Regions from separate parts of the Homo sapiens genome. Here region 2 is linked to region 1. Evidence: fine-mapped QTL for protein levels in blood plasma. A gene starts in region 1. The other region holds a variant in brackets. All regions are shown on one strand. Distances are between the middles of the regions.

Region 1 (2,908 bases):
AGCAAACTCCTTGCAGGCTGTGAGCCCCTGACTGACCCTCCCCAGGATAGGCAGCCAGGCTTCCTGGTCTCTGCTTCTTCCCCTGGGGATGTGGCCACCGCGACTCCCAGGGGACGGGCATGAGGCCAGGGTCCACCTGTGGGCACTGATTCACCAGGAGCCACGCGTGACTTCAGAGGCACAGAGCTGTCTGGTCCTAGGGGCAGTGGGAGCAGAAGGCGCCTCTGGCTCCAGGCTGTCTCACCTGAATGGCGCCGCCTGGAGGCTGCCCGCCTGGTACAGGACCAAGATACTGAGAGCCAGGAAGGGGGAGAACTTCCGGAAACCCATGCCGCCTCTCTGTAAAGGAAGGATGACGTTACTACTGCACCAGCACAGATCTAGGTTCCAGTCCTGCCTCTGCCACAACTGCCATGTGACCTTAGGCACGTTACTTCAGCTGCCTGAGCCTCTGTTCCCTTCATTTGCAGGAAGGGCTGCTGTGAATCTCAAGAGACACATTGCAGTGAGTGAATGGCTTGATAGAGCGGAAAAAGGTGTCCTAGGGGAAGGGTGGAGAGAAAGGATGAATTTTGGTTCTGTTTTGTTGAAGGCCAGGGAGAAGCCACACGCGCCCGTGCACACAAACAGACACTTCTGCCCTGATTTATGCCTAAACCAGGCGTGGACGCACCTTGCTGTAGACCTGCTCTCCCCTTCTCGCCTTCTCCTCTGCTGGGCTTCGCGCCAACGCATGCGAGGGGAAGGTGGGAAGGGTGGATTGGAAAGGAGCGCTCATTTCTCAGTCTTGGAACTGGGAAAAATTTTTAACGTGCCAGTTACGGGTGTCTCAGGACTCGCCCGCAAAGCCAGCCCTCTGCCGGAGCGCGTTTTAGCAGCAGATGCTGAGCAGCAGCTCCGCGAGGTGAGCGCCCAGGGTTCTAGTCCGCTAACAACACTGCCTTAGATCCGGACCGGAATCCCGGGAAGGCTCACCAGGGAGGCGCCTCAGAGGAAAGCTCAGGGTTCCGACCTCCCGGGAACGAAACATGCTCCCGAAGGACAAAGACGGCGCAGGGCGCTCCCGGACCCAACTCTGCAGAATCCTGCGCTCAGCCAGGCCCCAACGCCAGGGCTGCAGACCCGCCTACCTCCGCTCGCTGCGCTTCCAGCGCCCACGCTGAGCCATGGGGATGCTTGGGCTCCTCTCGCACTGGTAGGAGAAACTGCCAGGACAACCCTAACCGCTCGCCTTCTACGGGGCCTGGAAGAGAGCTAGGACCACCGCTGTAAGGTAGGACCAGATGGCGGCGGAGAGGCAGACAGGCAGATGGAGCAAACTGGATGAACTAGTCGAAGAAGCAGGTTATTCGAGTGAGCGGAATGGGGAATGGGAAGTTCCTCACCTGGCGACTAGAGTTTCAGGGCAGCGCGAGCGGCCGGTCGACCCGGGATGAACACCACACCTGCTGTGGGCGCCTTCCCCGCGGAGACCCCGCTCTTATTACAGAGATAGCTGGAGGGGGGGGGTCCCCACCAGCCCGCGCGGCCAATCCAAAGTGGCCAGGACTAGCCAATCAAAGGACCGACCGAGCTCCGATTGCGTCATAGCTCGCACTGCCGGCACTGGTACTCTGGAGCGGGGGCAGTCCGCCCCGCTGTCATTTTTTTCATTGAGGTCATTGCTTGGGAAGCTGGAGAGCCTGGGAGAGGACAGAGATTTTTCAACTAAGAGTCGGGGCAAGTCGAGGAGAGTTTGGCGTCACCTACAGTGAGGGGCCAGAGCTGCTCTCACCTCCTTGGCTCCTAAATTCCTGCCTCGCACTCCCTCCTGTCACGCCAGTGAGGGACCCGAATCCAGCCACCCGAACCCCCAGCGAGGTTGAGCAGTAGTAGTCCTGGGTTCTAAAGGGACCACAGCTGAAAGAGCCCACGGCAGGGAAGGAGGGGGGGGGAGGGAAAAGGGGAGGGAGGGGTCCTCAAAATTTGATCTTTTTGGACCACCTGGGGTGCTTCCCTGGATATCCTCCGACCCCTCGAGCCCTGGCAACCTGGGCACCCAAAGAAGGCTGTTTTGGTGCCAGTCTGGCAGCCAGCCCTTCTCCACCTCACTCCTCTGGGACGGGCAGGAGCCGAAGAGAGGTTGGGGAGAGGGCTAAACTGACATAGCCTGCATACAAGGCTCAGCATCCACCTCCTCCCTCTTCCCCTATATCCCCAAATCCTCGACCGCGGGTCCAGCATCCCCCACGCCAAGCCAGGACCCTCCACTGCTGCGCCGAAGTTGGCTTACACAGCTGCCCTGCAACTCTGCCACCTGTTTGCCAAGCTGCCTGGCGGAGATGGTCTATGCCCGGGTCTCTATCTCTCTCGTTCCACACCCCTACCCCACTTCGCTGAAGCGCCTGAGAGCTGAGCGCGCTGGGGTCCAGCTGCCACCCACGGAGGGGAGCAGGTGCTGCAGCGCGAGAGTCAGCCTGAGAATTTTCACACAAGTTCCACTCGCGACTACAGACCAGCCAGTGCGCGCATCATCACTCACATGGCAGGACCCCCACCACACGCTCTGCCTTCTGCATTCACAGACAGTCCATCAGACAGCCAGCACTCACTGGAACAGATGCGCCCTCACCAGCTGCTCCGAAAAGGGAGCGTGCGCAGGAACCCAAACTAACCACACCCATACCCGAAAGCAACCCCGTGTGTTTCTGTTTCCAAAAACAGGCGTGTTTTATGCAATTGGGGGTACATACTGTCCCCTAAACATGCACACCGACACATGCACGTCCACGCACACAAACTCGGCCTATCCATCTTTTCTGAAGGAAAGCCGGGTTCTGGGAGTCGGCACTGCCAGCTCTTCTTGCTCCCGGGTTCCAGGAGAAGATCCCAGCTTTGGCAGAATAGGCTAGGAAGGAGCTGGGGGTAG
Region 2 (2,908 bases), 31 kb before region 1:
TGCACTTAGAAAAAAAAATGCAAACCTTTTCTTCTGACTCAAGAAACCCTACATAATTCTTCTCTCTTCTAGGGTCTCAAGTCACATCATCTTCTTGAGAGAAATCTTCCCTGACCTACAAAGAACCATCCCTGGTCATTCTCCTATGAATGCCACTTATCACTCTCTGAAATTCCCTTGATTGTTTATTTGTTTGATTACTGTCTGTCTCTCCCACCTTCCATACCATGAGAAAAGAGACCGTGTCTTCTAGTGCAGTAGCTAGCACACAATAGATATTAGTAAACTGCCATGGAATGGTTCAAGCATGGTAGAGGAAGTAGCTGCCCCATGTGTCAGAGCAAAGAGGGGCAGAGATCATCCAGGAACCAGGTGCAAAAAGAGAAAGAGAACCAACAGAAAACCCAGTCCTTAAAAGAAAGAGGACTTGGGTTTCCAATAATTTTCCCTGAGAAGGACATTCCCATCCCTGGTTTATGAGAACCAACAGCTTCCCTGTCCTGGGGGTCCCATGAGACACCTGTACATTCTAACAAGATTTTTCTTATTTCCCTTAAGCTGGCTTGAGCTTTCTACTTTTGCTTACCAATTTACAAGTCCTCACTTGTTCCCCCTCTGCATGTCTCCTCAGTGAAGACAGCTAAAAGAGAAGGCCCACCAGCAGAAAGCACACAGCACAGCGGATGAGGGCTTGAGGCTTATCTTTTATCTCTTTGACCTTGCACAAGTGTCTTTTCCTTCTCTGAATCTCCACACCTAAGTCCACAGCACCTGAGACCTAGTCCTTCCAGGTGTATCTGATGAGGACTCTGAGCTGACAGATGGTAAGGAAAGGGGCCATCTTTCAGGCAAAATGCATATTCTGTTCATTTTCATATTCCAGGCAGGTCCCAGTGGGAAAGAGGGCCACACGGCTGAAATTTGGACAACAATTTAATGAAGGCCTATTTATGTTCAGGGTTAAGAAAATAATAGCAAGTGGTTTGAAGCATGCGGGGACTGACAACTGCGGGAACCCATTACCACCACCAATTCTAGAGGGACAAGCAGGTAAATCACTTACTGGTGTTCCAGGGCAG[C/A]CTTGGAAGAGGCTACCCAGAAGAAACTGTGATCATAAAATCATAGCTCCAAAGAGAAATGGAGAAGAAATTCCCTAACCTGTCTCTGCTCCTTCCTCTGATCTCCAGCCAGTTCCTCTGCTGGCTGAACCCAATCAGGGAACAAGAGAGTCCAGGTGCTACGGTCTGAAGATCAGCTCTTCCAGATGCAGAGCAGAGCAGAGATGATAGAGAAGCTATGGGGGAGGATGCCCAGCTGAATGGTTTATAAGCAGAACCCAGAGAAAAACCAAGACCTACAAACTCTCTAAGTCCCCACAGACACTGCTTCATTTAAATCTCTGTATAGAAGCACTGAACTCCAGAAAGCCTCTAAATTGCCATAATGGTTTTGATAGGCCCAGATTTACAGCCCTTGGCTAAGGGCTTGCCAAAGGCAGAAGCTATGCTATCAAGCACTTGCAACAACTGAAATAGAAGCTTCCAGAAAAGTTTCACCAAGAGATGAAAAATCTGACAATTTGAATAATTGAAAAGCCTTAATGCAAACCCTCAGATAAATTATTGAGGATGTATTAGATTATTGAGGATCCATTATAAAGGATCCTTCTAATAGAAACCATGCCCAGCCCAGGACTTTGTAGGAAATAAAAAATTGATCTGTTTTAAATTCCCTACAATTAACACTACTCAAGATTTAAAACGCCGGCCCTCCAGAACCCATCTATGCCCAAGGCCCATGAGGATAGGGTAGTGAGGGTGGGGTGCAGAGAGAGACAGCTTTCAATCCAGAAGACTAAGTCCCTTCTAGGAGTAAGAACATTCCTAAAGAATGCTTCAGAACATGGTGACCTCACTACTGCCAGAGAAAGTCTAGTACAGAAAACATTAATGAATAAAGACCAATCCTATGCCTGGCACCATGCACATCACTAGGAATACAACCATGATTAAGGCAGGGTCTCTACCTTGGAGTCCTCACAACCTAGTAAATGGAGAAAGATATAAATAGACCATTCCCATAGGAGGAGTTAATTAAGGGAGAGATGAATTAAAATGTCCCAATATAATTGTGTATTTCTGCTTTATATACTGTCAGGCTATGTTATTAGGTGCATATACGTTTACAATTATTACATTCTGCTGGAAATGTTACATTTTGTTATCTTAAGATAGCCCTCATTATCTCTTAATGCTTTTTGTCTTATGGTCAATTTTAGTCAAATTAATATTAATTACACTGCCGTTATTTTAGTTAGTGTTTGCATGGTATATTGTATTTTCATTCTTTTTCTTTTGCCATTCTGTATTCTCATGTTTTAGGTAACTCCTGTAAAAAGCCTACAGTTAGATATTTTTTAAGCCTAGTCAATGTAAATGGAGGTGAAAGAGTTATGTATAATGCAAATCTGTGAGAAGAGCTTTCCCAAAAAAAGGAATCAGTGAAAGCAAATATTCTAAGGCAAGAGTATGGCTGGTATCTTTGAGCAAGAGCAGGAAGAACACTAAGGTGAAACAAAGGAGTGAGGGGAGTACGAGGTGAAGGCAGAGATAGGTAACGGCTGAAGCAATGCCTTTGAGTAGTGGAAAGGGGAGGGATCTGCTGCACAAATAAAAGAAATGGCTCCAGCTAGGGGCACAGAAAGTTAATCGATGGCAACCAAGGGAGAAGAGCACCTATGTTCAGATGCCAGTAGGTGTAGAGATGTTTTGTTAAGAGTCTGTGGAGGCTCTCTTCTGATTGATGCCATCCTTTAAGTGAAGTAACAAGCAAGGTCAGAAGCTTAGAATAAGGATGGTGGAGAGGGTGCTGGGAGTTTGAGGAAGGTATATAAAAGTGATCTAGAAGT

Which allele goes with the higher level. Alleles are on the strand shown, and positions count from the first base shown. The strength of an association depends on the size of the effect and on how common the allele is.
With allele C in place of A in region 2, the plasma level of the protein whose gene starts at base 1,456 in region 1 is higher (strong association).

The links. A credible set is the group of variants that fine-mapping cannot tell apart. PIP is the posterior inclusion probability: the model's chance that the variant is causal. The UK Biobank Pharma Proteomics Project read protein levels with antibody pairs (Olink). The fine-mapping took linkage between variants from a reference panel, not from the people measured, so its PIPs are less certain.
Region 2: its variant is the best candidate, but not a certain one, in a credible set for the plasma level of the CALCB protein (UK Biobank, PIP 0.68).

What each region holds. Positions count from the first base shown.
Region 1 is chr11:15,072,141-15,075,048 of GRCh38, reverse strand. CALCB (calcitonin related polypeptide beta) reads right to left here and starts at 1,456. Exons shown (of 5, transcript NM_000728.4): 1 at 1,386-1,456; 2 at 245-339. The coding sequence starts at 330. RefSeq lists a silencer at 1-10 and an enhancer at 53-554.
Region 2 is chr11:15,103,370-15,106,277 of GRCh38, reverse strand. No RefSeq gene overlaps it. Among named protein-coding and RNA genes, the nearest start is that of INSC, 10 kb to the left of the region's middle. The variant C/A (reference allele first, on the strand shown) is at 1,080.